Regions from separate parts of the Homo sapiens genome. Here region 2 is linked to region 1. The links come from fine-mapping of genetic effects on gene expression. A gene starts in region 1. The other region holds a variant in brackets. All regions are shown on one strand. Distances are between the middles of the regions. Region 1 holds the start of ZC3HAV1 (zinc finger CCCH-type containing, antiviral 1). Region 2 holds the start of IFT56 (intraflagellar transport 56).

Region 1 (17,124 bases):
GAGGAGCGTCTCTGCCAGGCCGCCCATCGTCTGAGATGCGGGGAGCGCCTCTGCCCTGCCGCCCCGTCTGGGATGTGAGGAGCGCCTCAGCCCGGCCACCACCCCGTCTGGGAGGTGTACCCAACAGCTCATTGAGAACGGGCCATGATGACGATGGCGGTTTTGTGGAATAGAAAAGGGGGAAAGGTGGGGAAATGATAGAGAAATCGGATTGTTACTGTGTCTGTGTAGAAAGTAGACATGGGAGACTTCATTTTGTTCTGTACTAAGAAAAATTCTTCTGCCTTGGGATGCTGTTGATCTATGACCTTACCCCCAACCCTGTGCTCTCTGAAACATGTGCTGTGTCCACTCAGGGTTAAATGGATTAAGGGCGGTGCAAGATGTGCTTTGTTAAACAGATGCTTGAAGGCAGCAGACTCGTTAAGAGTCATCACCACTCCCTAATCTCAAGTACCCAGGGACACAAACACTGCGGAAGGCCGCAGGGTCCTCTGCCTAGGAAAACCAGAGACATTTGTTCACTTGTTTATCTGCTGACCTTCCCTCCACTATTGTCCTATGACCCTGCTAAATCCCCCTCTGTGAGAAACACCCAAGAATGATCAATAAAAAAAAAAAAAAATCAAAATTCCACTACTAGATCTCTAGGGAAACTCATGTACATGTACACAAAGAAGCATATACCAAAATGTTCAAAGCATAATGGTTTAATAGCAAATACTTAAAACAATATCAATTTTACTTTGTTTTTTCAGAGGCAGGGTCTCATTCTATTGCCCAGGCTGGAGGGCAGTGGCGCAACTGCACCTGACCGCAGCCTTGTCCTCCCAGGCTCAAGTGATCCTCCCGCCTCAGCCTCCTGAGTAACTGGGACCACAGGTGTGTGCCACTGTGTCCAACTAATTTTATTTTTTAATGTTTTTGTAGGAGCTATGTTGCCCGGGCTGGTCTCGAACCCCTGACTTCAAGAGATTCTCCCACCTCGGCCTCTTGAAGTACTGGGATTACAGATATTAGCTACTGAGGCCAGTCTCAATTTTAATAATAAGAAGATCAATATATAAATTGTGTACATTCATGCAAAAGAAAACAATGAAGACATTTCAGGGAATCAGAGTAGACCTTCTCTAAAATTGGTGGGGCCCAGAGCAAGGTTATAAATGGAGGCTTGGATACAAATGTCTAAATATTTAACAGTAATAAATCATGCTGAGCTGGGCTTAGTGGCTCATGCCTGTAATCCCAGCAGTTTGGGAGGCTGAGGCAAGAGGAATGCTTGAGCCCAGGCACTCGAGACCAGCCTGGGCAAAATAGTGAGACACTGTCTCTATACACACACACACACACACACACACACACACACACACACACACAAATTAGCCAGGTATGGTGGCACTAGCCTGGTCCCAGCTACTGGGAGGCTGACATGGGAGGATCGTTTGAATCCAGGAGGTGGAGGCTGCAGTGAGCCATATTTGCACCACCACACTCCAGAGTGGTGACAGAACAAGATCCTGTCTCAAAAAAAAAAAAAGTATATATATATGTATATGTATATGTATATGTATATGTATATGTGTGTGTGTGTTTATATATGATATATATAAAATAAAAACTTTAATACAAAAACTTTAAAATTTGTTGTAAAAAAATTTTTTTGGAGACAGAGCCACACTCTGTTGCCCAGGCTGGTGTGCACTGGCATGAACATAGCTCACTGTAACCTCAAAATTCCTGGGATCAAACAATCCTTCTGCCTCAGCCTCCAGCACTGCTAGGACTATGGGCATGCACCACCACGCCCAGCTAATATTTTTTATATAATTATTTTTATTTTTTATTTATTTTACTTGTTTTTTATTTTTTTATTTTTTTATTTTTTTTTTATTTTTTGATGGGGTCTCACTATGTTGTCCAGGCTAGTCTTGAACTCCTGTCCTCAATCCTCTCATCTTGGCCTCCCAAAGCACTGGGAGTACACCCATGAGCCACTGCACCCAGCCCAGGAAAAAAATTTTTTTTGAATTCAAATAATGACTATTTCAAAGCCTTCCGACTGGCATAAGCCAAAAAAGTCTGATAACACCAAGCATTAATTGGCCAGAAAATGAGGAAACTGGGACACTCAGACATATAAGTATAAATTGGCACAGCCACCTTTATACTAATTCGTCAGAATCTGGAAAAGTTGAAGCTATGTAACAATTCAAACCAACAATTCCACTTCCTAATGATCTACCCTGGAAAAGCTCTAACCATGAGCACCAGGAAACACTTGCACGTAAATTCTTGGCAGCACGATTTGGTATAACAAAAACCTGGAAATATACTATATATCCATTACTGGGGGGAATAGGTAACTGAACTGTGGTATAAATCCTATGATGAAATACTTTTCAACTGTTAAAATGAATAAACTAGGTCCTTGTGTAGCAATATGAATAGATCTCCAAAACACAGCATTGAATAAAAATTCTAAAACACATAAAATACTACATTTTGTATATGGATGCAAACATATACAAGAGGAAATTATAAAATCATGGAAGGACAAGATACACACCAAAATCATGATTGAAGCTGCTTCTTAGGAAAGGGAAATGAGACTGGGGATGAGAAAAAAATAACCTTAGGTCTGTTATGATTGTTTAGTATATTTTAAAAGAGGAGCAAAACTGAAAAATGTGAACACTTATTTATCCCAGGAGGTGAGTTATAACTTTTATGGGTTCAGAATAAATATTCTCTGATGCTTGCGTTTTTCAGTATTCTATTCAACTTGCGAAACAGTCAACTAGTCCTCTTCCCATCTACCCACCCCCACCCAAAATGTGAATTAACCGAAAAGGAAAGACATACAAACAGGAAAGAACCCAGAGGAAACACCCACATCGGCAAAAACCGCAAAGCAAGGTAAAGACCCTTAGGCAGCCTGCTTGAAACAGTTAACAGAAATCATGCAGGCAAAATAAATTTTTGAATTAATAACTTCATATAGTTACTGGACAATGTAAGTAGCTAGTTAAGAAGTCAAGGCCGGGCGCGGTGGCTCACGCCTGTAATCCCAGCACTTTGGGAGGCTGAGGTGGGCGGATTGCCTGAGCTCAGGAGTTGGAGACCAGACTGGGCAACATAGTGAAATCCCGTCTCTACTAAAATACAAAAATGAAAAAAAATTAGCCAGGCGTGGTGGCAGGCGCCTGTAGTCCCAGCTACGCGGGAGGCTGAGGCAGGAGAATCGCTTGAACCGGGGAGGCGGAGGTTGCAGCGAGCTGAGATCACGCCACTGCACTCCAGCCTGGCAACAGAGCGAGACTCTGTCACAAAAAAAAAAAAAAAAAAAAAAAAAGTCAAACAAGGCCGGGAGCGGTGGCTCATGCCTGTAATCCTGCACTTTGGGAGGCTGGGAAGATTGCTTAAGCCTAGGAGTTTGAGAGCAGCCCAGGCAAAATGGCAAAATCCCATCTCTACTAAAAAATACAAAAATTAGCTGGGTGTGGTGGCACATGCTTGTAATCCCAGCTACTCGGGAGGCTGAGGCAGGACAATCGCTTGAACCGGGGAGGCGGAGGTTGCAGCGAGCTGAGATCACGCCACTGCACTCCAGCCTGGGTGACAGAGTGAGACTCTGTCTCAAAAAAAAAAAAAAAAAAAAAGAAAAGAAAAGTTAGCCGGACATGGTGGCGCCCACCTGTAGTCCCAGCTACTCAGGAGGCTGAGGGAGGAGGATCATCTGAGCCTAGGAATTCGAAGTGGCAGTGAGCTATGACCGTGCCACTGCACTTCAGTCTGGGTGACAAAGCAAGATCTCATTTCTAAAGAAAAAAAAAAGGAAGTCATGCAGATCTAGGTTCAAATACCAATCCTGCCAGCTTCTAGTTATGTTACTTTCAGTAGATTTCTGAAAGGCTCCATGCCCGAGTTTCCTACAATAAGGATGGGACTTAAAATACTACCTTAGGAGCTATCCTAAAGACTAACCTGGATATCATCTCCAAAGTGCTTATCATAGTGGTTGGCACATAGTTATTTGTTCGATAAATAGTGATTATTTTTGCATCAGAAGTGGGATTAGAACTCCATGTGTGGGCATATATTTCAGCAAAGCAAATAGAAATATCCAAACCGATTCACCAAAACAATTATCCAACATTGAAGCAAGCCCTGTTGTCAACTAAAATGTATCACTAAAAACATTGCAAAAGAAAAGACAGGAACTACAGAATAGACAGGATAAATCCTATCTATAAATAATAGTACCACAGACAAAATTTTATACACCCAGCACAATGCAAATCGTCCCCCTGTAAACAGAGACCAGTTTAGTGAACTGAATAGTAATGTCAAGATGGGTATCAATTAGTTAACAGACCCCATTAACTGGTAATCTACAAAGAAAGTTCTTAAACTCACAAGTGGCAAGTTTTGGAAGACAAGGTTTTATTACTCGCTAAGAGGAGAATATTTTTAAAACATAAGTAGGGAGGAAAAAAACATGTTTTCTAGGACCCGAGGACAAAAAAAAAATTCTCCCAGAGGTCCTTATTACAACACTTTATACATTAATAGATTAAAAGTTTGTAATTCCCAAATTCAAAAGTGATATAAAATGAAATTAAAAATATGGCTCTGCCAATAAATGTTAGGAAATAAGATTTTATCACTCTACTAAAAAAAATAAACTTTATTGACTTCTCTGGAGGGTCCATCCAAATTTAGATAGACCAAATAATCCCTATATTATATATATTCTTATAAAAGTGGAGGTTAACAACCCAATTAACGAGTTTAAAACAGTTTTGCTGTTTCAAACCAGGGAAAAATATACCATAATAAACTTCATAAAACTAAAATTTCTAAGCATATTGCCTACAACAAATTGAAACAAAGTATTTAAATGTTAGATATGTAACATATGAAAACAATTATAGGCCAGGTGAGGCAGTGGCTCAGGCCTGTAATCCCAGCACTTTGGGAGGCCTAGGCCGGCAGATCGCTTGAGCTCAGGAGTTCGAGACCGGCCTGGCCAACATCGCGAAACCCCATCTCTACTAAAAATACAAAAAATTAGCCAAGCATGGTGGCACACACCTATAATCCCAGCTACTTGGGAGTCTGAGGCAGTAGAATTGCTTGAACCTGGGAGGCAGAGTTTGCAGTGAGCTGAGATCGGGTCACTGCACTCCAGCCTTGGGTGACCCTATCTCAAAAAATTTTAAAAAAATCTTTTTTTAAAAGGATTATGTCTATGTATCCTTTTCCCTGAAAATAAAAGTTGGATTTATAAGACAATCAGGGAAATTTGAATACCAACTGGACAATAGATGATATTAAAATTGTAATTTTTTTTACAAAAATGTGATCATTGTACTGTATTATGTTAATAAAACATAGTTCTTATGTTTTAGAGATACTAAAGTACTTAGTAATCAAATGGTTGCTGAGATTTGCTTTAAAATAACACATTGGAGTTGGGGACACATGGGGAATAGGGAGAATAAATGAAACAAAACTGGCCATATTTTCAAAACTGTTGAAATGATGGGTACAAGGGGCTTCATCATTTTTTTCTCTCTACTTTTGAGTATGTTGAAAATATCCATAGTAAGAAATAAAAAAATAAAAAGCATATGTATTTCATACTAAAAATCAACACTAGTTGGTGAAGAATTTGTCATAATAGAAAAGATAAGAACAGAAAAAACATAACAAAGCCTTCCAACCATGTTATTTGGTGTAGTGCTAGAACATGCTAGAATGTTCCTTCCTTTTCTATCCTCCACCCTCTGCTCTCTTCTCCTTCTCAGAGATTTCTTCAGTGACCAGCAATGACTTAGATGATTTCCTCGATACCCATAACTCCCAGCAACTCAGAAACAACCTTCAAATTGTTGCCCCACAACATATTAAAGAAAATTTTAAATAAAGGAACACATTCAAGCACTTTTTAAAAACGTTAGAGTGAGCTGAAAGGGTTTTTGCTCTAAAGAAATTTTTAAAAAAATACATTGCGTCCTCTACCTCATCCATCTAAAACACTTACCTTTGTGTGTTTTATTACACGTATATTGGGGGTGAGTGACTGGAGTTTTTGTTAGGTGCGTGATCAAAAGTTTGCCGACTGGTCGGACTTGGTGGCTTATGCCTGTAATCCCAGCACTTTGGGAGGCTGAGACAAGTGGATCACCTGAGGTCAGGAGTTCGAGACCAGCCTGGCCAACATGGTGAAACCCTGTCTCTACTAAAAATACAAAAATTGGCCGGGTGCGATGGTGCATGCCTGTAATCCCAGCTACTCGGGAGGCTGAGGCAGGAGAATCGCTTGAACCTGGGAGGTGGAGGTTGCAGTGAACCGAGGTGGAGCCACTGCACTCCAGCCTAAAAAGTTTGCTGACAACCATTTTAAACCCTGGGACACAAGTCAAAGTGTTTAAGAATGGGCCAAGTGTAAAAAGTACTGTATCGAGAAAAGTAATTGAGCAGAGCACATAGTGACAGAAAGGGTGGGAGGAAAGACTGGCCATTCATTAATTCAACAAGGCGTTCATTCAGTTCATTCAGAAATTAGATGGGAAGGCAGAATCCGCCAAGAAGGGAAAGAGACTTCACAAAAAGGACTTGGTGATGACAGATTGTGAGGAGGATTAAAACCCTGCCTGGGGGAAAAGATGAGTTTGACTCCATGGACAGGACACACGCGGGAGAGGAAGGGCTTGGGATCAAGGGAAAGGCCTGGGCAGCGAATGTGGACCTGGAAGCCATCTTTTTAGATGTGCAGCTGTCCTCGAGGGAGCAAGCTCTCTTAGGGAGAAACTGGGAAGAAAATCACTCAAGAGTCTTAACCCAAACCTTGCAGCGCATCTGCATTTAGACGAAAAAAAAAAAAGGCAAACGGAAACAACAGAAGCAGTGGCCCGAGACGTGAGCCACACTGCTTCAAAGGGATTTAAGAGAGTTGTCCCAAGGCAGGCGGTCAACTGCGCGCGCCACCGTAGAGAGACCACCCGGAGGGAAGGCCCGCGGCTGCTACAACTTCAGGAACCTGGAAAAGGGCCACCCCTGCTACGCGCCAGGCATCAGAAAAGCGGTGATGAGGGGCATGGGGGTGACCGGGAAGGGAGGGACAAGCAGAGAGACCTGCGGCTCGCTCCGGCGGAGACGGACCGGGGGCCCAGGGCGGCTGGGTTACTGGCTCCGCCACGTCTAGGGAAGGAGGTAGTAGGGAGGGAAAGACTCAAGATACCAAAGACGGGAGGCTCTTTCCTTCCTTCCCAAACCTGCCTACCGCTTCTCTAGGCCCTGGCTGGCTCCAGAGCACTTTATTCTTCTGATTCGTGCGGGCGGGCGGGGAAAGGGGTGGAGGTTGAGCCTGGTCTCCTCCAGGCACTAGCATTTTAGCCATTCTCGAGAAAATGTCTGGAGGTGCCGGAAGGAAGGGAACTGCAAAGGTAGAAGCGCGGGCCCTGCAGAGGCTCCCAGAGGGGAGCAGAGAAGGGAGTGGCTGGAGGCGGAGGCTGTCAGGTGCGGGGTCCCGGCGAAGCCGTGCCCCTCCCAGAACATTGCCCGCCTGGACAGTCCACCCCGACCACGGCTGCGGACAGCGCCCCTCCCTCCGGGTGCACTCACCGCTCGGACTGCGAATAGTTGCACCGGCCCAGCAAGTTGAGTTTGCAGAGATGCAGGTTATCGCAGGGTCTCTGGCAGTACTTGCGACGGCAGACCCGGGCTCGAGTGGTGGCCACCACCGATCGGGTGATCCCGGCCTCGCCGCCGGTCTCCAACACCACAAAGCGGTCGGGCCCGGCCACCTGCAGCACCTCACAGAGCTGCGGCTCAGACAGCGCGATCTCCTGGAGCAGCGCGTCCAGGGCCATGCGGCCCCCGTGGGCGCACAGGATTTTGGTGATGAAGCAGCACACCTCCGGGTCCGCCATGGCGCGCTGGCTGTGCTGGCTCTGCCGCGGCGCGGGACTCGGTTCCGCGGAAATCGGAAATCGAAACTTACAAGTGTCCAGGGGCGGGCGCGGGCGGTGCTACTGCTGGGCGCGCCCGGAGTCAGCGAGGGCGCGCTCTCCGTCGCCGTTAGCCCAGCCCAGCGATCCACTCTCGGCTCTCAGGTCAAGAGGCTAGATCTCACCGACCGGGTCCTAGTGGCAGGTTTACAGCCGGCCGCAAGGGCAACTGGGTGGAAAGAAAGAGAACGCGCGGGCAAATCTGCTGGTGACCGCCTGGGGTGGCCCCCTCTCGGTTCTAGGCTCGGCGAGGGTGAGGTTCTCCAGCCGGGCTCCGCGAGCCTTCTTTAGAAAGAAGAGAAACTAAAAGCGATCTTGGGGCTCTGGCCGGTGTTTTATAAGCCAGCCGACTGAGGCGTGTGACGCAAGTCCTGAGAGCCCTGTTGAGGAGTGCGCACCCCACCCATTCCCGGAAAGAGCAGACCCTAGCGAGCGCTTCCTGCGAGCCGTGCGCTCTGCCTCTGTTGGTAGTGAATCTTCCCAGCAACTCCACATGGTAGATATTATTATCCTCACCCTGAACTTGAGGAAGTAACTTGCACGAACACGCACTGGCATCAAGCGGAGCCCAGATGCCACCGAGTTTCCCCAAATCGCGTCCCCAGGCCCCAGATCGTGGTACCCCAGGCCCCGATGTGCAAGTTTCTCCTCCACCACCGTGCCCTCTTAAAGAACAACGATTGCCACTCTCCCTCGTTTCTGCCTTCTCACGAACTTTTGGACAAACCACTTCTTGACATGGTCTTGCTTACCTAGAATCGCTAACTCGGTGCCCTGAACCACTGCTTGTACCTCAATCACGGTGGACATGCTAAGACATATCCCAAGATTTCAGATCGGTTCCTCCCCGTAGAGATTGGGACAAGAACTTTTCCACCGTGGGGACGTACTTTGACCCCCAGAGTTGACATAAAGATTGTTTTTAAGTGAAAACATTGAGCTACAGAAGATGTAGAAAGAAATCTTAATGAAACTTCCCTTATCTGACTAAAGCAAAACCTCCCGAAAACATGGTGCCATTAAAAGCCTCTCGGAGTATTCAGCTGCCAGGAAGACAGACTGTCCCATTACCATTAGCACCAAAAAACCCAATGGGCTGGGTGCTGTGGCTCAGCCCGTAATCCCAGCGCTTTAGGAAGCCGAGGCAGTGGGAGGATTGCTTGAACCCAGGAGTTCAAGACTAGCCTGGGCAACATAGTGAGCTCTCTTCAATAATAATAATAATAATAATAATAATAATAATAATAATAATAATAAAAACAACCCGGGCATGGTGGTGTGCAGCCGCAGTCCCAGCTACTCGGGAGCCTGAGGTGGGAGGATTGCTTGAGCACGGGAGGAGGCTGCAACGAGCCGGGATTGTGCCACTGCACTCCAGCCTGGGGGATAGCGCTGAGACTTTGTCTCAAAAACACAAAACAACCCAATCAAAACTTCCAAACTCTCCTACTGAAGCCCTAAAACTTTCCTTTTTGTTAAGTTGAGGTATATAAACCTTTACTTTTGAGTTTTCTGTTACTGGAAGCTCCTGCATGCATGTGTAAATAAACTTTGTCTTTTCTCCTATTTATCTGTCTAGTGCCAGTTAATTTTTAGGCCCCCAAAGACAGGACACAAGTTGAAGAGAAAAAAGGTTTTTTTTTCCAACATCTTCAAATAAAATAGATGGGTCATTTGATCAGATAAGAAATACATCTTTTTAAAAAATAATAGATTCTGGTTGCTAACTTAGAAATTCTTCAAAATGATTAATGAGAATTCTCCTCAGTTTTGTCATTCATGGTATATAAACCCTCTTTCAGGAATAGAGTACTTTGTTATGAAAACCAGCCAAACATGGGGGCCACATAGGATCATCTTAGGATGTCTAAGAGGGACATCTTGTTCCCTCTAGTTGCTGCTTCTATAGTTGTCTTTTAATCCACTTGGCCTTATTTGTGGTCTGACAGGTTCCCAGGGACCTTTTATTATCAAATCAACTAAGTTCTAGATGTTTATTGACTATCTTCTATGTGGTATTTACATTAGTTAGTAATGTAAGGACATGCAGAAGTTTAAAAAACAGTCCCTGCACTCAAGGAGCATGTATGCGAAGACATGAAAAAATGCATGGAAATATAAGCAAATTCATGGGTAAATGCCACAATGGGAATATAGAAGATGAGAGACTGAAGAGTCTAGTTTGGCTACAGTGGTTGGGAGTACAGACATAGAATCTCCTCCAATTTGAAGCCATGAAAAATGATTTAAGGGCCAGGTGCAGTGGCTTGTGCCTGTAATCCCAACACTTTGGGAGGCCAAGGCGGGAGGATCATGACCATCCTGGGCAACATACTGTGAGATCCACCTGGGCAACATAGCGAGACCTCATCTCCACTAAAAATAAAAATTAGCCAGACATAGTGGTATGTGCCTGTAGTCCCAACTACTTGGGAGGCTGCGGCGGGAGGATTTCTTGAGCCCGGGAGTTCAAGGTTGCAGTGAGCTACAATTGTGCCACTGCACTCCAGCAAAGGCAACAGAGGAAGATCCTTTTGGAAAGGGAAGAGAGGGAAAGGGAAAGGGAAACGGAAATGGAAAGTGACAGAGAAAGGGAAAGGGAAAGTGAAAATGAAAGAGAAAGGGAAATGGAAAGGGAAAGGGAGGGAAAGGAAAGAAAGGAAGGGAAAGGAAAGGAAGAGAAAGGAAAGGAAGGAAGGGAAAGGAAAGAAGGGAAAGGAAAGGGGAAAAGGAAGGAAAAGGAAAAAAAGGAAGGAAAAGGAAAAGGGGAAAAAAGAAGGGAAAGTGAAAGGAAAAAAGAAAGGGAAAGTGAAAGAGAAAGGTGATTTAAGGAGTTCTGGGAAGGGAAAAGGAGACATTTTGAAAAATTTTGAAATATGTGCCATCAGAGATTGGGTTCTCCAGGAAGGAGATCCTGACATGGAGTTAAGAGTGCAGAACTTTCTCTGCACTTTTTCTGGGGCATAATGCCAGAAAAAGTCAAAGGAAAAAGCATGATTGATCCATGGGGCCTATCAGACTTTTGTGCGGACCTAACAAAGTCTCTGCCAGCCCAATGAGGAGCTCTGGAGTAGGAGTCCAGCTTTGGACAGAAAAGGCTAGGCCCTTGTACTGCCTTGCTCAGTCACCGGTGGGGGCCACCAGAGAAGTGGATGACTTCAGCTCGAATGCTGGGGCAGATCTTGAAAGAGCTAAAGCTGGAGGATATTGGCTAAACATGCTCCTCAAAGCTGGGCTGCAAGCTTGACCTGAGTGCCACCCTGTGTCAGCTGTAGTCCACCCTTTGTACTACATGGCTTTCTTTATCCATTTGTATTTAGGGAACAGGCTTTTCAGGGTCACTCTTCCTACAAGGAAGCTTACCAGAGAGAAATTAGTGGAATGAACTATAGTCCTTGTCACTGCAGTTGGTCTCAAGGCCACAGCTGGTGGTCTGGTCCTCATCATATCCCTCTACCACTATCCATTCCAATCCCTCTCACCCTTGGCCACCACCTCAGCTGCTCTCAGTAGCTTAATCTGGTCGGGTGCCCTATTTGAAAGTGGTCTGAGCACATCTCAGTCCCAGCTGGGCAAAGGATTACCAAGAGACACCAAAATAGGTCACCAGAATTCCATACATATTCCACCTGCCCACATTGTGTAACAACAGCCACACCTCCTGCTGACCAGCAACAGTTACCTCGAATAAGATGGCCATTCCCTTTCTTACTTGCTAGTCTCTGACCATTAGGAGGCCAAAGTACCTGGTGACAGCCATCACAGTAGTCCAGTGGGATCTCTGTGGTATCTCCAGGCAAGAGTGTGCCCCTTTGGGGAACCAAGACCTATAACTCTGCAGAGCCCAGCATTGCTGGGAGAGGAAATTGCAGGGGGTCATTGGAATTATACTAAGTAGGGCCACTCAGGCTTACCCATTCTTTCCAGACTCATGTATGGACACAGTACCATACTAACTTGACCGATTCAAGGCATATACCACGATGTTCTGGAGTCTGTGTCATCATTGTAGGGTATCAGCTCCATTCTGGTGCTTGACTCCATCTTTAACTAGCCATTCCAATACTTCATCCTATAGCTACTGGGTGGTGAAGTGTATGATAGGACCATGGATAGTACCATGTTCATGGGTTCATTCCCTCCACTTTCTGTGCCATGAAAAGATTCACCTGATAAGATGCTATGTTAAGTGTGATTCCATGTCTGTGGATCGGGCAATCTTTAAGTCTCCAGAAAGTGGTGCTACTGGCCGGGCACGGTGGTTCAAGCCTGTAATCTCATCACTTTGGGAGGCTGAGGCAGGGGGATCACTTGAGGTCAGGAGTTCCAGACCAGCCTGACCATCATGGTGAAACCCTGTGTCTACTAATAATACAAAATTAGCCGGGTGTGGTAGCACACGCCTGTAATCCCAGCTATTTGGGAGGCTGAGGCAGGATAATCGCTTGAACCCAGAAGGCAGAGGTTGCAGTGAGCTGAGATCGCACTATTGCACTCCAGCCTGGGCAACAAGAGTGAAATTCCATCTAAAAAAAAAAAAAAAGAGTGCTACTACTGAGGCTCTGCAGGGAGGAAGGGCAACCCCAAATCCAGAATAACTGCCTCTTCTTGTGAGAACCACCGATGGTTCTGCCAGGACAAAAGGGGCCCGATGCAGTCTACTGGTCCCCAAGTAGTCTATTGGTCTCCTTAAGGAATAGAGCTTAGCATTGGTCTTTATGGCTGGCAGATCAGACACTCAGAGGTGGCAGTAGCTGTGTTTATTTTGGCAAATGATAATCTATGCTGTTAGGTTCTTGCATCGCTTCCATCTCCTGGCCACCATGGCCTCTTTGAGCAGCAGTGGGGGAGGGGGCCTGTCACTAAGCCTGGCCAACATTAACTGGCCAAGTTATTTTGTGTAGTTGGCACATCTTTTGTGGGTCTTAATGTGATATGAACTGCCCACTTCCATACATCTATTCATATGCTTCCTTTTACTTTTAGGCTCCCAAACTCCCAGCCAGGCCACCATCACTGCCCATGAGACCATGTATGTTCTAACCCTAGGCCATACTCCTTCCATACGAAGTGATGACTAGGTACACTCTCAAAGCTCCTCCCGCTGGGGAGATTTTCCCTTACCACTGTTTTTCAAGGACTTCCCTGAGTGAGACTGTAATATAGCTGCCATGCATTTTCAGCTTGTACCCACATATTAAGCTAGCCCATCCTTAACGCAAACTTGGTCTTTTTCCCTCCTCCTTTAGCTGGTTATATGGGACCCCCTCACATGACCACAGGTGAGGCTGGGGGAGGGGTGCTGGTGCAACCGTAGTGAATGACATGGAAATCTGGGCTAATTGCTCATGCAGCTTGAGTGTGCGTGTGCCCTCTGGTCCCACTTGTGTTCAGTCCCAGATGTACCAGTTTTATCCTATGATGGCTTTGATACTGACCCGCCCTGACCTTATCACTTGGTGTGTCTAACAGGACGTAGCTGATGGCAGCCAGTTTTGAATCCATGATCACTTGGTGTCTCCACCAGGGCCCAGTAGAAAGTAGGAGCTGTTTTCTGAAAGGAGTGTAATCCTTCACTGCAGTTGGCATGACCTTGTTACACTATCCAAGGAGTCTGCATTGTGATTCCTCTATTGGGACTCACCATAAATGCCATACTACATCTTTTTCCATCACTGACATCTCCAACATGAGAAGCTGTGCCAGATTTTACAGTCCACTCAAAAGGGCTGCTTGTGTCACAGCCTGGAGAGCTCTTTCCTGTTCTGAGCCTCACTCAAAGCTGGCAATCTCTGTGTAACCCAGTATATGCGCAGCAGCAGTATTCTTAGGTGTGAAATGTGTTTTGTCAAGAACCCAAAGATTCCTAACAGACTTTGTGCTTCCTTCTTTCCAATAAATATAAATGATGCAACAATTTTTCTTTTGCCTTGGAAGGAATGTCCCAGCACACTGGTGACCATTGGACCTTTCAAATCGTTAGTGAAGTGGCAGGTCACCGTATCTTTGTAGGATTTATTTCCCACTCTCAGGAGCACATGTGTCATACCAAGGCCTCTACCATGCTCTTCACCTCTTTCTCATCCTGCTAGAGCAGCATGACATCCTCGATGTGATGGATCAATGTGATGTTACGTGAGATGTCCAAATGCTCCAGTTCTCTTTGGACTAGATTACGGCAGAGGACTGAAAAGGAACATAGCCCTGTGGCAAAACTGTAAAGGCTTGTTGCTATGCATTCCATATGAATATGAACTCTTTCTGATCCTCTTTCTTGATTGCAATAGAAAAGAATGCATTCACCAGATCAATGGCCTCAAACCACTTCAAACTGCATAAATCTGCTCTGGCAAAGATGCTATATCCAGTACAGAGCTACTACTTCCTTGCGGTAGTCTGAAGTCATTCTCTAGGAACCATCCCATTGCTGCAGGGTCCACACTGGCAAATTAAACAGAAACATGACAGGGACCATGCTTCTTCATCCTTTAGATATTTAAGAGTGGCACTAATATCTGCCATCCTCCTCACCCTAGACTGCAATGCTATTTTGTAGTTACCACATTGGCTGGGGTGGGGGACAGTTTCAGATACTTCCACTTAGCCTTCCCTACTGTGATAGCTCCCACTCTACAAAACCAGGATGAATGTGAGAGTTAGCCCAATTCCCAAGTGTGGCAATCCTAACCATATATTTGGGGATTAGGAGAAGGACGATTGGTGGGTTCATGGACCCAGAGAACCCACTGTAAGCTGGAACTCAGTCAGGACTCCATTTGCTCCCACTCTAACATGGAAGCGATGAGAATGCTTCAGTTCTCTGGGCATCAGTTGACCTCTGACCTTGTACCCAACAGTCACCAAAATGTCTGCATATTCCCCCATCCCGTGTTCCATCACTGGAATAAATATTGTAGATCTCTTTAGGGGAAGAATCAGAGGAACTGTGACAATACTTTCTTGCCACAGTGTTACAGGTCCTTCATCTTGGTGACTTGGCCACCACTTCACTCAGTGGGTTCTGAGTCTGAACATTGGTTCAGGAATGGAAACCAGGCAAGGAAATGTTTTCCTCATTGTCCTGCTTATTAATTCTTTTATTTTAGATTATACATGTGAAGCACGACAGATGCTCCTTGACTTCCAATGGGGTTATGTCCCAACAAATCCATCATACATTGAATATACTGTAAGTAAACAATGTATTTAGGCCAGGCACGGTGGCTCATGCCTGTAATCCCAGCACTTTGGGAGGCTGAGGCAGGCAGATCACTTGAGGTAAGGAATTTAAGACCAGCCTGGCCAACATGATGAAACCCCACCTCTACTAAAAAAAAATACAAAAATTAGCCAGGCATGGTGGCTCACACCTGTAATCCCAGGTATTTGGGAGGCTGAGGCAGGAGAATTGCTTGAACCCAGGAGGCAGAGGTTGCAGTGAGCCTAGATCACCCCACTGCCCTCCAGCCTGGGAGCAAGACTCTGTCTCAAAAAAAAAAAAAAAAAAAAAAAAAAACACCAAAAATGTATTTAATACACCTAACCTACCAAATATCATAGCTTAGCCTAAGCTACATTAAATGTGCTCAGAACACTTACATTAGCCTACAATTGAGCAAAATCATCAAACACAAAGCCTAGTGCATAACAAAGTGCTGAATATCTCATCATGTAATTTTTGAATTCACTACACTGTATAGTATCCGTTGTTTACTCTTGTCATTAGGTAGCTGACTGGGAGCTGTGGCTTGCTGCCACTGCCCAGCATCAGAAGAGGGTATCATATGGCATATCCCTAGCCTGGGAAGAGATCAAAGTTCAAAATTCAAAGTGCAGTTTCTACTGAATGCACACCATGGTGAGGCAGAAAAATCATATGTTGAGGGCCATTTGGACTTTTTGACTACCCACGCGTCTATGTTCTTCCTAGAGAAACTGTGTGCTATTTACAATCCCTACAACTCCCTAAAAGTCAGGTCCTGTTAGCTGCCACTCTGATTTTGTCATTCCGCCCTTAAGTGCCATCATTCTGGTGTCCAGTGCATCAGGAGCCCATCATCTTCATTGCTATCAGTGAGCCAAGTTCCAGGACAGCCCCTCCTTCCATCAACTATGTTCTACTGGGGAAAGCACCACTGAACTTATTAGCGACGTTGCTGTCCCTCTCACCAATGCGTTCCCTATGGCCTTGATGAATATGGCTCCTTGAGCGATCCTATGGGACATAATCCCCGGGTGGCTGTTCTGGCCTAACCTTACATCTATTTCAGCATGTCCCCTTTTCTGAGTCTTTTAATCCTTTCCTCTACTGCCTGACATAGCAATTTAGGCACTTCAGACTCACTCTTCATGAATCAGCACTTTTCCAGGATTCAGGGAGCCAACCTAGCAGCAATTTTGTACCATCCCCTGGTTCTTATCAGGATGCTCAACCTCGTATCCTGAGATGTGCCCTTATGTCAATAAATTCTCCTGTATACAATCTCATATTATTCCAGCTCACTTGACAGACCAGTTCTCTCAGAATGCTGAAGTTGGAAGTCAAAGTGTATGAAGTAAAGAAATAAAACAATTGAGTATAGAACATTCATTTTAGAGGATTGACAGGGAAGGGAAGGGAATGGGAAGGGAGGAGAAGAGAGGGAAAAGATTGTTCCGGTAATGAGAGGGAGAATTTTTTTTGTTCAACTGATACTTGCCCGTGTTTTTATTTTTTTGTTTTTGTTTATTATTATTATTGTTTGTTGTTATTTTACTAGAAGATCTGGGTATTTTTGAAAGTTTCAATGAAATAGATCTGAGGAGAGTGCAAAGCTGAAGTTGCTAGGGCATGTTAGGGTGACATTGAGCCATATGAACCTGTTGAAGCACCGATCAGAGAGGGAAGCAGAAAACACACAGGCTGCAATGAGTCAGCTATGCTGTAATGAGTCAGCTATGCTAAATCATAGAAATGAAAAGTACATAAACATCAGAGAGTTGAGTCAAATTTGGACATTTGGAATGTCCGAAGTCCCTGCCAAACAGGTGTTCTACAGGAGATATGGGAGTCGAGAGAGGCATTAATCAAATGGTCAGACAAATGGAGGAAGGCTGCAGTCGGGGGCAG
Region 2 (14,620 bases), 19 kb after region 1:
CCTCTGGCCTCTTGAAGTGCTGGGATTATAGGTGTAAGCCACTGTACCCAGCCAAAATATGGTTTTTAAAGCCTTCTCTTTTTTCAGAAGGAACAATCTCTATTAAGAAAAAACAAAACATTCTTTTGTTTTTTTGGCAAGGCAGAATATTTGTAAACCTAGCAAACAAAAAAAGAAAAAACTGATAGCCCTCAAACAGAGCCAATGAATAGATTTACTGTGGCTCTGTAGCAGAGAGTGGAGGATTCTTCTTTTCATGAGATTTTTTTTCCTTAAGGAAAATCAACCCTAGCAGGAAATGCCAAAACTTAGTGCCTTGGCATACCTTCAGCAACTCATGGCCCCGGTCAATGACAGAGACATGATTTCTACAGTGATTTCTAAGGACCTAGGGTCAGCATCACTGTGTATCAAGGCTGAATTGGAGAAACATAGACTCCAGAGCAGCACTCTAAGCTCTGGGCTGGATTATCTTTAAAATAAACAAACAAACAAAACCAGATTTAGCAAGACACAATTTACTTACTGTTAACAAAAAGAGTCAAACTCTGTAAAATAATTGAAGAGATTTATTCTGAGCCATATATGAGTGACCAATGGCCTGTAACACAGCCCTTGGGAGATCCTGAGAACATGAGCCCAAGGTGGTCAGGCTACAGCTTGGTTTTATATATTTTAGGGAGACATAAGGTATCAATCAATACAGGTAAACTATACATCGGTTGGGTCTGGAAAGGCGGGACAATTATAAATAGGGGCTTCCAAGACATAGGCAAATTCAAAGATTTTCTGATTGGCAGCTGGTTCAAAGAGTTATTATCAATAGAAAGGAATGTCTGGTTTACAATAACGGGTTGTAGAGACTGAGGTTTTATCATGCACATGAAACCTCCAGGTAGCAGGCTTCCGAGAGAATAGATAATAAATGTTTCTTATCAGATTTAAAGAGTCTATTCTATCCGTAATTCCAAAAGCAAGGAGGATATAATGAGGAATGTCCAGCTCCCCCGTCCCATCATGGCCTGAACTAGTTTTTCAGATTAACTTTGGAATGCCCTTGGTTGAGAGGAGGCATCCATTCAGATGCTTGTCGGGGTGGGGTGGGGGCTTAGAATTTTATTTTTTGTTTACAGTACTATACAATTCACCTATTCAAAGTGTATAATTCAATGCTTTTTTTTTTTTTTTTTTTGAGACAGAGTCTCACTCTGTTGCCCAGGCTGGAGTGCAGTGGCATGATCTCAGCTCACTGCAACCTCCACCTCCCAGGTTCAAGTGATTTTCCTGCCTCAGCCTCCTGAGTAGCTGGGATTACAGGTGCACACCATCATACCAGGCTAATTTTTGTATTTTTAGTAGAGACGGGGTTTCACTATGTGGGTCAGGCTGGTCTTGAACTCCTGACCTTGTGATCCACCCACCTCGGCCTCCAAAAGTGCTGGGATTACAGGCATGAGCCACTGCGCCTGGCCAATTCAATGCTTTTTAATAAATTTTTATTGTCATACAATCATCAAAACCTGGATTATGTTTTACAGTCCCTCAGAATCCACTGCTCCATTGCAGCTGCAATGAAATTGCAAGTTCCAACTTTGCCTGTTACCTATGCAACCAGGTTTTGTGTGCCTATGTTATATGTTTCATAATACCATTAGAGCCGTAGTTCGGAATAATAACTTCTTCTCAAGTACACTCAGTGTCATATTCTGCCCTTCATAACTACAGCTACAGTTCAAACAGCCTCTACCAGGATTTAGAGATTTAAAGCTATACCTAACTGTTGGAAGTCAGTGGTCATTTCAATTGATTTAGGAAATTCAGCAGGGTTGTTTATAGTATCATCAACCCTTCAGACCCTGGCAAGAGAAGCCCCTGCTCTGGGCTCTGTACTGTGGCCACATCCTAAGCCAGGTATGAAAAGTCCATGGAGTTAAGGGGTCATTGCACCTCTCCTGACCATGCTGTGGTGCCCAGGACTCTGAATCCCCCGCTGATGCAACCCCAAGCCTGTTTCCACACCTGAGCAGGTCTCTTCCTGGGGTCTGTTCTCCCTATAGGTCTATTAGGAAATGACAGATCACAGATGAGTTGGGTGACTACAGCTTGAATTTGTGGGCTGGGTGTCCACACACATGCACAAAGCCCTACATAGTGTGGGTAGAGAGAACCTGGAGTGAGAAGAGATGGGTTGTGGGCTGAGGGTTGTGGCTGGATCTCTTTGCATTGCCACATCCACAACAGAATTTTGAGAAGTCCGAGAATTCTAAATTGGAGCCTGACCTTCTTCATAATAGTATATTTGTCAAGGTAGGAGGATAAAACATTTTATTGAACAGTTTGCTAAGCTGATTTAAAATTTTCCAGCATTTAGCTATATGGTATATGGACCTCCACATGTATGATTTCATTTATATTAAATGTCCAGAATAGACAAATCTATAATGACAATAAAGAGATTAGTAGTTGCCAGAGGCTGGGAGGAGGGGAGAAACAATGAGTGATTGCGGACGGGTGTGGGGTTTCTTTCTGGGGCGATAACAGTGTCCTGGAATTCAATAGTGATAATGGATGCACACTGTGAATATACTAAAAGCCACTCACACTTTAAAAGTGTGGGTTTTATGGTAATTTGAATGATATATCAAGCTATCACCAAAAATACACAATGGGAGTTCAGAAATGCCACCCCAAACTATGATGATTTGACATGCTCATTACTTTGAACTGATGTCACTTGGGGAAAAACAGATGCAGGCAGAGACTTTCTCTGAGATCTGCTTATCTGCCTAAGACAGATCAAGGGATCCTCCAAAAGGAACTCAATTGTCATGAATCCCCTCCCCTGGAACCTTATCAACCAGGGACAATGAACTTAGATCAGAGAGGGGGAGACTGGAGGTTGACATCATGCCTAGACAGCCACCTCTTCTTCTGAGGGCTGCTCCAAGAGAACCTTTATTACTTGAGAGGCTTCTCATTTGCATAACAAGAAACCTTTGTTCACCATACACTTCCTCCCCTCATATTCTCATAACTGGTGTCACCACCACCCACGCAGAAGTCCAAAGCCTCTATTCCCTTCTGTACCTCAGGGTGCTATATAAGCTTCAATCATCTGACCCTTCTTTGAATCTCATATTTTGTGGGCTTGCATGGGTATGTACATAATTAAAAATGGATTTCCTCTTGTTAATCTGTCTTATGTCAGTTTAATTCATAGCCCAGCCAAGGAACTTAGAAGAGTAGAGGGAAGTCATTTTTCACTCCCCTACAAGAACATTCTGCTGTAAAGAGGAGCTAGAAATAATTTTTGTTTTAAATTCAACCAAACATAGGGATAATTCTGAAATTTGGAACCAAAAGAATTATAAGTACACTACTGGTGAATTTGTGCTTATCTGAAATCTACACATGTAGCTGTCTTTATGTATCTCTGTATATCGATGTTTTTCTATATATATAATCAGTGAAGTAAGATATCTAGTCATTCATTTACTCACCAAGTGATTGCAGTGGGGTGACAGGGACAGTGGGGGGTGTGGTGGCGGGTTGCCAGAGCATGAGGAGTATGCAATAGAATCTAAGAAATCATACCTACCTGGCCAGGCACAGTTGCTCATGCCTGTAATCCCAGCACTTTGGGAGGCAGAGGCAGGCGGATCACTTGAGGTCAGGAGTTCCAGACCAGCCTGGCCAACATGGTGAAATCCCATCTCTACTAAAAATACAAAAAATACAAAAAATTAGCTGGGTGTGGTGGCACATGCCTGTAATCCTGGCTACTCTGGAGGCTGAGGCAGGAGAATGGCTTGAACCTGGGAGGCAGAGGCTGCAGTGAGCTGAAATTGTACTACTGCACTCCAGCCTGGGTGACAGAGTGAGACTCCATCTCAAAAAAAAAAAAAAAAAAAAAAAATCAGACCTGCCTTCCATGAGCTCATGGTATACTTGAATCTCCATAGGCTAGTTATTCAGGAGGGTATGTAATGTAACTCAACAATGCACAATTACTTAAATTCGCTCAGGAGAATTACCTCATTTTGCCCAACTTGTTACTGTGAAAAAAAAAAAAGAAAGAAAATTTCAGGACCTTCCAAATTTATTATGCCAAAGGGAAAAGTCAAGCCCTGGAAACCAAGTCATGTAACACGGCTGTTTTTCTTCTCTGGTGCATGACTGTTGCTTCCTGATCTTTTTGTTGATGTTATACATTAACCAGCCTCTCTATTCTTTATTCAAACCTAGACTAAATGACGTTGGAGACGGAGACTCTTGTGATTGTTACCTCTTTACAACAAAATGTTAAACAACCCCCTTAGAGTGTAAACAACAGTAGTGAATTAAATCTTCTGTGTATATTAGCCTTATATAGAAAATGCTGGCCGGGCGCGGTGGCTCACGCCTGTAATCCCAGCACTTTAGGAGGCCGAGGCAGGTGCATCACGAGGTCAGGAGATCGAGACCATCCTGGCTAACACAGTGAAACCCCGTCTCTACTAAACACACACACACACACACACACACACACACACACACACACACACACACACAAATTAGCCAGGCAGGCACCTGTAGTCCCAGCTACTTGGGAAGCTGAGGCAGGAGAATGGCGTGAAACCCGGAGGTGGAGCTTGCAGTGAGCCGAGATGGTGCCACTGCACTCCAGCCTGGGCGACAGAGCCAGACTCCGTCTCAAAAAAAAAAAAAAGAAAGAAAGAAAAGAAAAGAAAATGCTGTAATATGCTGTAATTCTGTGCAACACACTTGTGGTTGCCTACATATACCACCTTCACCTTTCCCTACATCGCGGAGCACTGATCACCATTCTTTCTTTGGTGTCTGTGTTTACCTGATGGCCACTCTCACACTTTGCACTTGAATAAACTCTTTTAACTGGATCCTGAGCTGTTTGATTATATTAGATTGACATTTTGATGATCCAGAGACTCTAAGCGGGCCTCCTGAGATCTGTGCCTCTTTGCTGACATTCGGAGCTTTGGTGTCTACAGGAGCGGCTTTTGCTCATCCCACCTCATTGGAACTGGCAGGGGGCTCTGGCAAGGCTTCCTCTCAGGTTTTGAATCTCCCTGGCTTTGACTGAGATTCACACTTTACACAAGCGATCCAGTTCTATGCTCCACAGAGCTGGAATTGAAGCTGTACTTTAAGATAGAAGTTTTGTTTGCTTATTTTGTCTTTCACAGATTTATGACATTCACTTTTCTTTGAGGTTAAGGTTTGTTTGTTGAACTACTTGCTACACTTTGTATGGCCCTTTCGGTCATTCGAATTTGGTCAGAGGACAAAATAGGTTCTCTCTCTGAAAAGAGAAAGTGAATGTATGTGGCTTTAGGTAAATTTGTGGTTTTAGGCCAGGCCCAGTGGCTCACACCTGTAATCCCAGCACTTGAGAGGCTGAGGCAAGTGGATCACTTGAAGCCAGGAGTTTGAAACCAGCCTGGCCAACATGGCAAAACCCCATCTCTACTAAAAACACAAAAATTAGCCAGGCATGGTGGCATGTGCCTGTAATCTTAGATACTTGGGAGGCTGAGGCAGGAGAATTGCTTAAGCCCAGGAGATGGAGGTTGCAGTGGGCCCAGATCATGCCACTGCGCTCCAGCCTGGGTAACTGAGTGAGACTATGACTCAAAAAAAAAAAAAAATTGATTGGACCCAGGTTGGTGACCCAGGTTTTGGAGCTCAGTAAAAATTGACATTTAAGTTTAATTCTTGAGTGACCAAAAATTTATAAACAGGGTTCATATGAGGACATAAGTCCCAAATACAAAAGACCTTGTTCCTCCCAGAAGAAAAGCACCTTAGGTGATTGAGGTCATGTAAGAATGTCAGAGTCCATAGCTTGGGATGTGTAACTATGCTCTAGGGAAATCTCAAAGAAGAATATGCAGGGAAATCTGCTTAACTCGGTGGGCACACATAAGGGGTTGGGCTCCCAGTACCTAAAACCCCCAGAAATTTCTGGGTTTCATTGGGACACATAAGAGGGGAGAGGTGACTCATGGGTGAAACCTTGAGGAGTAAAAACTATTAAGCAGCACACTAGACCCAAAACGTCTTTCCCTTTCAATCTTTGGTCAATTTAAAAGAGGATACAAATTATGGACAACTGTTCATCTAAAACAAAGTCCTCTTTAAGGGAGGACCCACTTTTAGAAACTCCAGCTAAATTTATGTACAAGACTTACAGTGCCACCTCCTGTATATATATACACACAACCTAACAACCTACATACATAAATATGTGTGTATGTGTGTCTGTATGTTTTATGAGGCAGGGTCTCACTCTGTCATCCAGGATGGAGTGCAGTAGTACGATCTCGGCTTACTGCAACCTCCACCTCCGGGGCTCAAACAATCCTCCCACCTCAGCCTCCCGAGTAGCTGGCACCACAGGCACACCCCCATGCTGGGCTAATTTTTTCAGTTTTTATAGAGACAGTCTCACTACATCATCCAGGCTCATCTCAAACTCCTGAGCTCAAGTGATCCTCCTGCTTCAACCTGCCAAAGTGCTGAGATTACAGGTGTGAGCCATCGCACCTGCTACCTCCTGTCAGTATTGGGAAAAATGGTCTTACTTGACCCAAGAAGACCCTGAATTACAGTGGCCAAAGTAGGGTACTTGTGAAATGCCTAAGTTAGTTTGCTCACATGCACAATTAGAAAAAGCCAGCTCCAGAATTAAACAATATAATTTGGAGAGTTATTTCCAATGCTACCCAGAAGCATGCAAAAGAGGCTGTGACAGAGTTCTTTTCCTATAGAAAGAGAATGAAAAGCCTCTAAAACTTTTATTCAGAAAAGCTGCTGAAACTGCTGCTTCTCCTCCTTCTGCTCCCCCTTCTCTCTATCCCTCCTTATCACAACTACCTTGCCCAGACTGACCTTCTCTTCCCTCTCCTCCCCTTCCACCTGCTCCCACATTTTTGGCTTCATTTAATGAACATCCAGCATCTGGTAGAGGGAAACCTGCTTTAGTTTATCAACCATGGTCTAAGGTAGAACTTAAAGGCATAGTTAAATAATTCCCCGACCTTAACCAGGATCCTATTTGTTTTGCTAGGGAATTTGAATTAAATATCTGAGCTTATGGCCCTGGTTATTCTGATTTATATCAACTAACTCACATGTGACTATCAGAAAGTAAAGCTAAAGATTAGACAGACACAAATTGTCCCTGTTTGCAGATGACATGATTGTATATTTAGAAAACCCCATCATCTCAACCCAAAATCTCCTTAAGCTGATAAGCAACTTCAGAAAAGTCTCAGGACACAAAATCAATGTGCAAAAATCACAAGCATTCTTATACACCAATAGCAGACAGAGAGCCAAATCATGAGTGAACTCCCATTCACAATTGCTTCAAAGAGAATTAAATACCTAGGAATCCAACTTATAATGGATGCGAAGGACCTCTTCAAGGAGAACTACAAACCACTGCTCAACGAAATAAAAGAGGACACAAACAAATGGAAGAACATTCCATGCTCATGGACAGGAAGAATCAATATCGTGAAAATGGCCATACTGCCCAAGGTAATTTATAGATTCAATGCCATTCCCATCAAGCTACCAATGACTTTCTTCACAGAATTGGAAAAAACTATTTTAAAGTTCATATGGAACCAAAAAAGGGCCCGCATTGCCAAGACAATCCTAAGCCAAAAGAACAAAGCTGGAGGCATCATGCTACCTGACTTCAAACTATACCACAAGGCTACAGTAACCAAAACAGGATGGTACTGGTACCAAAACGGAGATATAGACCAATGGAACAGAACAGAGCCCTCAGAAATAATACCACACATCTACAACCATCTGATCTTTGACAAACCTGACAAAAACAAGAAATGGGGAAAGGATTCCCTATTTAATGAATGGTGCTGGGAAAACTGGCTAGCCATATGTAGAAAGCTGAAACTGGATCCCTTCCTTACACCTTATACAAAAATTAATTCAAAATGGATTAAAGACTTAAATGTTAGACCTAAAACCATAAAAACCCTAGAAGAAAACCTAGGCAATACCATTCAGGACACAGGCATGGGCAAGGACTTCATGTCTAAAACACCAAAAGCAATGGCAACAAAAGCCAAAATTGACAAATGGGATCTAATTAAACTAAAGAGCTTCTACACAGCAAAAGAAACTACCATCAGAGTGAACAGGCAACCTATAGAATGGGAGAAAATTTTTGCAATCTACTCATCTGACAAAGGGCTAATATCCAGAATCTACAAAGAACTCAAACAAATTTACAAGAAAAAAACAAACAACCCCATCAAAAAGTGGGCGAACGATATGAACAGACACTTCTCAAAAGAAGACATTTATGCAGCCAACACACACATGAAAAAAATGCTCATCATCACTGGCCATCAGAGAAATGCAAATCAAAACCACAATGAGATACCATCTCACACCAGTTAGAATGGCAATCATTAAAAAGTCAGGAAACAACAGGTGCTGGAGAGGATGTGGAGAAATAGGAACACTTTTACACTGTTGGTGGGACTGTAAACTAGTTCAACCATTGTGGAAGACAGTGTGACGATTCCTCAAGGATCTAGAACTAGAAATACCATTTGACCCAGCCATCTCATTACTGGGTATGTACCCAAAGGATTATAAATCATGCTACTATAAAGACACATGCACACGTATGTTTATTGTGGCACTATTCACAATAGCAAAGACTTGGAACCAACCCAAATGTCCATCAATGATAGACTGGTTTAAGAAAATGTGGCACATATATACCATGGAATACAATGCAGCCATAAAAAAGGATGAGTTCATGTCCTTTGTAGGGACATGGATGAATCTGGAAACCAGCATTATCAGCAAACTATCGCAAGGACAAAAAACCAAACACTGCATGTTCTCACTCATAGGTGGGAACTGAACACTATGACACAGTGAGAACGCTATGACACAATGAGAACAC[T/A]TGGACACAGGAAGGGGAACATCACACACTGGGGCCTGTCATGGGGTGGGGGGAGGGGGGAGGGATAGCATTAGGAGATATACCTAATGTAAATGATGAGTTAATGGGTGCAGCACACCAACATGGCGCATGTATATATATGTAACAAACCTGCACGTTGTGCACATGTACCCTAGAACTTAAAGTATAAAGAAAAAAAAAAAGATTAGACAGACAAGGCCCATTATAGAAATCTCTTAGAAGACTTTCATAAATGCTCAGGACTGTAGGCAGACACACAAAACTGCAAAGGCATTGCTTCAAGCCACTCCTCACTGTTTCTAAGAGTAGTTGACTGTAGTAAAATACAACAAGGTCAACAAAATCCAGATGAGTCAGTAATATCATATTTTGAGAGGTGTGAGTAAACTTAAACAATATTCGGGTTTATCTGAAGAAAGCTAAGCTAATAATCAAAATGATATTCTTCTCAACTCCAGTTTTATAAATAGGTTAGATGAAGAATTAGCACTAATAATGAAAAGACAAAACCCTCGCTGGGCCACTTCTCAAAATCATAATTTGGTCAGTCTTGCTGCCCAGTTGTCTCATAACTGAAGACAAATCTGAGAAGGAGGCCAAACAAAAGAGCAAGGCTAATAAAATTATGATTTTACAGTCGAAACAAATGTCCACACAATTTGGACCTTCAAGATATCCTTATAAATCCGCAAATAGACTTAACCATACACTTTCAATTAATGCAAAAAGCCTGATCACATTAAAACGAACTGCCAAAAACTAAAAAGGAAAGAACAACAGGTGGAGTCAGATAATAAAGAATGGGGGTGCTCCATGGAACTTAAAGGGGCCTTTCCTTTTCTCCTTACACTCTGAGAGAAAAGAAATTGTTTAAAACTCCCCTTACTGTTTTCATCCCTCATTCTGTGGAAGCATTGCTAAACTTGAACCACACTCAACGTTATTCAATGAGTAGACTAACTTCATAGAAAGTTTCACTTCTTTTAGCTTCTCATGTCACCATCTCTAGATGTAACAAGCTAAATATTGCAACTCTTCTTCCTTCACTTTCAGATGAAACACCACACAATTGCATAACTCTAACTGATAAACTTGTTTTCTCCTAGGACTGATCTGCAAGAGACTTTTCTTACTTAGGCTAATGTTGTTTGGTTTACAGACGCATGTTATTTAAAGGATGAATCTGGAACTTACTGTAAAGGTTTACGCAATAGTGTCTTTAACAGAAGAAATAGAAAGTGCTTACCTTCCAGAAGCCACTTAGATTCACTTCTGTCTTTGTACCACAACTGTGTATTGAAGATGTCATTTGCCATGTACAGGCCCTAACCAATTACACACAAAAGGCCCTAAATAACAGCCACATGAATGTCTCATTATTAAATAATGAAGTTACTGTCATGAGAAGACTGTATTACAAAACTGTATGGTCTTAGACATACTCACTGCAGCCCAAGGAGGAATCTGTGCTATGACAGAAACTGAATGCTGTGTTTATATCCCAGATGAATCAAATAACGTCACCAAATTAATAACTGATTTGAAAAACTCTAATAATTAACCTTTCGGATCCAAAACCCTCTCTAAGCTACTGGTTAAGTAATTGATTTGGATCTTGGGGAACTTGGTGGCAAAAGCTGTTATGTATTTTAGGAATTATCATAGTTTGTGTTTTGTCTTGCCTTTGTCTGCAGAGCTGTTATGGTATTTATCTGCAATTGGGTCAACACACAGCTGAGAAAATGTGTAGAACAAAGACTACTCAGAGAATTGTTTGATTGAAGAGGCAGCCGTGTAGCCTGAATCAGGTTCCAGAACTACTTTCTCTTGTTGCTTTATAATTCGGACTTGGTCCTTTCCAATTTCCCCTCCTCCCTGGGATGTGACTGCCAGGAAGGGGCCTTCCTAGTGACATGAGGTTTGATCAAATACACGGCCTGAGAATATAATTCTTCTATAATGCTTTCTCTGAAAGCTTTTGAAGAAAAGGGGAAAATGTGAAAAGAAAATTTCAGCACTTTCCAAACGTACTATGCCAAGGGGAAAAGTTAAGCCCTGTAAACTAAATCACAGAACATGGCTGTTTTTCTTCTCTGGTGCATGACTGTTGCTTCCTGATCTTTGTGTTGATGTTATATATTAACCAGATTTTTTATTCTTTATTCAGACTAAATGACGTTGGAGATAGAGACCCTTGTGATTGTTACCTCTTTACAATAGAATATTAAACAACCCCCTTACAGTGTAATCAATAGTAGTGAATTGAATCTTCTGTGTACGTTAGCCTCATCTAGAAAATGCTGTAATTACGTACAGCACTCCTGTTTTTGGTGATATAAATGACCCTCACCTTTCCCTGCATCAGGGAGCACTGATCACCATTCTTTGCTGTCAGTGGTTCCCGGGATAGCCGCCCTCACACTTTGCACTTGAATAAACTCTTTCAACTGGATCCCTGAGCTTTTTGGTTATTTTAGGCTGACATTAGTTAACTAACAAGATGTTAGTTCTTCAGTCTGTTAATTCTGAGGGGTTGACCAGAGGTCCTGTAAGGTCCCTTCCAACTCTAACATTCCACGATTTCGTGAATTTAAAGACTGTGGTTGCCCCTGTATTAACTGGGTTCAGGAGTAAGATAGATAAATTAAGTCATCCAATCGACAAATATTTATTACAGTTCTCTATTGTGTGTAGGTGTATCTGTGGAAATAGGAAACTGTATTTTGGTGCACTCCTGCTTCCAAATCACAGAACTACAACTCCTTCAGCAGAAATTTTCTAAGCTTCCCGCACCAGCCAGAGACCAAGATTCTGCGGTGCACATAGTCAAGGGTTGCTATGGAGTCCAACACGGCCCCAAACAGAAGTGGTCCCTGAAAATTTCTTTCCCAGAAAACTTGCATTTGAAAAACAATGCCATTCCAATTCGCCTTTTCCTAAAGTAAACTCATAAATAGAGACAACCAAACTTTCGCTCTCAGCCCAGAGAACGACGCTCTCCTCCCAAGAGGAACCTCGGCTCTTCCGCGGCAGAAGCTGCACGGAACCAAGAAGCCGCGGGCGCTGGTTCTCCAACGAGCTTTTCTCCCGTTCGTACCAGCGTCCAGGCGGGGTTACCGTGGAGACAGAACGTGCTGTGTGGATGCGGCGAAACGCTGAGGCGCGGCCTTCGCTGTGTGGTGGGGACTCACAAGACCGACGTCAAGATGGTTAGTGGCTCTGAATAGTAAGGGAGTACTTTGAGTAGGTCCTGAGGCTGGCGATTAGAGGTTCCCAGCACACTTCTGTGTGAAGTCTAGGTGTGTCCGCAGAGAGTAATCCCCAGCTCTCCCTGTGTTCCCACGGGGGACAGGGATGCAACTGTAAATACCTCGGTGCTTTCTTCCCTCCTGCTTTTCCGTTTACTCACATTTAAACCACTCGTGGGATGGGAAGCAGAGGAAGGGAAAGCTGAGATGACAGAAGCAATGCGAAAGCATCTCTAGCCAGAGAAGATAAAAGTTGGGAGTAGCTGTTTGGTCCTTCCTAAGTATTGGCTGATGGCTCTTCTAGTAGAATACCTGTTACAAAACGAGTTTGAATAGGCTTCCCTGGGGTTCGTTGTTAAGGATTTGACTTATAATTTTTTTTTTTTTTTTGAGATGGAGGCTCGCTTTGTCGCCCAGGTTGGAGTGCAGTGGCGCGATCTTGGCTCACTGCAACCTCTGCCTCTAGGTTCAAGCGTTTCTTCTGCCTCAGCCTCCCGAGTAGCTGGGACTACAGGCGCATGCCACCACGCCCGGCTAATTTTTGTATTTTTAGTAGAGATGCGGTGTCACCATATTGACCAGGCTGGTCTCCAACTCCTGACCTCGTGATCCGCCGCCTTCGCCTCTCAAAGTGCTGGGATTACAGGCATGAGCCACTGTGCCCGGCCTTGACTTATAAATTACAGAGCTGTCACTCTCAGTTTAAATCTGATAATCAGAATTGGACCATACAGCTGTCTTTGTTTCTTTTACAGATGCTTTCAAGGGCCAAACCTGCTGTAGGCAGAGGCGTACAGCACACTGACAAAAGAAAGAAGAAAGGTAGGAAGATTCCAAAACTAGAGGAGCTACTTTCAAAAAGAGATTTCACTGGAGCTATTACCCTGTTGGAGGTAATGCCCAAAGAACGTTGCTTCTTAGTGTATGAATACCAGACTGTAGATGAATGCTTGGGTGAATGCTGTTTGCTATGCTCTTGAAATAGGTGGGTGCATTCTGGGGCTTCCTGTACAAATCCCCTGTAAATCTAGTCAGGCACAGATTCCAGATTCCAAGTTAGCTATAAACCTGATAAAAAACGAACTAAAAAACTAAACTTGGCCGGGCGCGGTGGCTCATGCCTGTAATTCCAGCACTTCGGGAGGCCGAGACGGGCAGATCACAAGGTCAAGAGATCGAGACCATCCTGGCCAACATGGTGAAACCCCGTCTCTATTGAAAATACAAAAATTAGCTGGGCATGGTGGCACGTGTCTGTAGTCCCAGCTACTCGGGAGGCTGAGGCTGGAGAATCGCTTGAACCCGGGAGGCGGAGGTTGCAGTGAGCCAAGATCATGCCACTGCACTCCAGCCTGGCTACAAGGCGAGACTCCGTCTCAAAAAAAAAAAAAAAAAAAAACAAAACAAAACTTATTTCTTGAGGGCCACTTTTGAGTATGTCTAGTTCACCAACAGTGATTACAATCTAAAAATATGAAGGGACCTTTTATACAATGTCATTTCACACATTGCTTATCCCAACCCTTGACCAATGTATGATTTTTTCCTATTATGTGTTCTAAAATTTTGATCAAACTTAAATAATTCTAACATGCTTACGGTTGAAAATATAGCCCCAGAAAATATTTCAAATCTCCATGGCAGTAGTTCTCACCTTTTAATATACATTGGAATTACCTAGGGTACTTAATAAGATATCGATTCCTGGGCTCCTGCTGTAAGTCTGCAGAGGTGCTCAGGAATCTGCATTTTAAGGTGAGTAGTCTAAGTGCTTCTGATGGAGATGGTCCCAGGAGACTGTGCTTTAAAAAACTGCTTTGTGGGAAACACATGTTATAGGAGGGTGAAGGGTTGCACCAAAGAATGAAGAGTTCTGACAGCATGGTCTGGTTGTGTTGTACCACACTCATTTCTCTTAAAATGCTACTCTGTCCATATTACTCTGAATCTACCCTTAATAATTGTTATAATTAGGTTTACATATATTTCTCCATCTTCCACAAATAGTTCACTTTCTTTTTTTTTTCTTTTTTCTTTTTTTGAGTTGGAGTTTCACTCTTGTCACCCAGGCTAGAGTGCAATGGCGCAATCTCAGCTCACTGCAACCTGCACCTCCCTGGTTCAAGCAATTCTCCTGCCTCAGCCTCCTGAGTAGCTGGGATTAGAAGTGCCTGCCACCATACCTGGCTAATATTTTGTATTTTTAGTAGAGATGGGGTTTCACCATGTTGGCCAGGCTGGTCTCCAACTCCTGGCCTCAGGTGATCCACCTGCCTCGGCCTCCCAAAGTGCTGGGATTACAGGTGTGGGCCACCGCGCCCGGCCTAGTTTGCCTTCTTACTAAGTACTCTGGTGTTGAGCGTGTTTTTTAGCTTTT

Evidence for each region.
Region 2: its variant is fine-mapped to the expression of ZC3HAV1 in whole blood (GTEx, PIP above 0.99).

What each region holds. Positions count from the first base shown.
Region 1 is chr7:139,101,395-139,118,518 of GRCh38, forward strand. ZC3HAV1 (zinc finger CCCH-type containing, antiviral 1) reads right to left here and starts at 8,326. Exons shown (of 13, transcript NM_020119.4): 1 at 7,630-8,326. The coding sequence starts at 7,937. RefSeq lists enhancers at 381-952, 7,225-7,354, 7,935-8,034, 7,979-8,482, 8,275-8,434 and 2 more.
Region 2 is chr7:139,121,657-139,136,276 of GRCh38, forward strand. IFT56 (intraflagellar transport 56) reads left to right here and starts at 12,122. Exons shown (of 18, transcript NM_024926.4): 1 at 12,122-12,204; 2 at 12,999-13,136. The coding sequence starts at 12,202. RefSeq lists a silencer at 3,367-3,661 and enhancers at 11,947-12,241, 11,959-12,138. The variant T/A (reference allele first, on the strand shown) is at 8,975.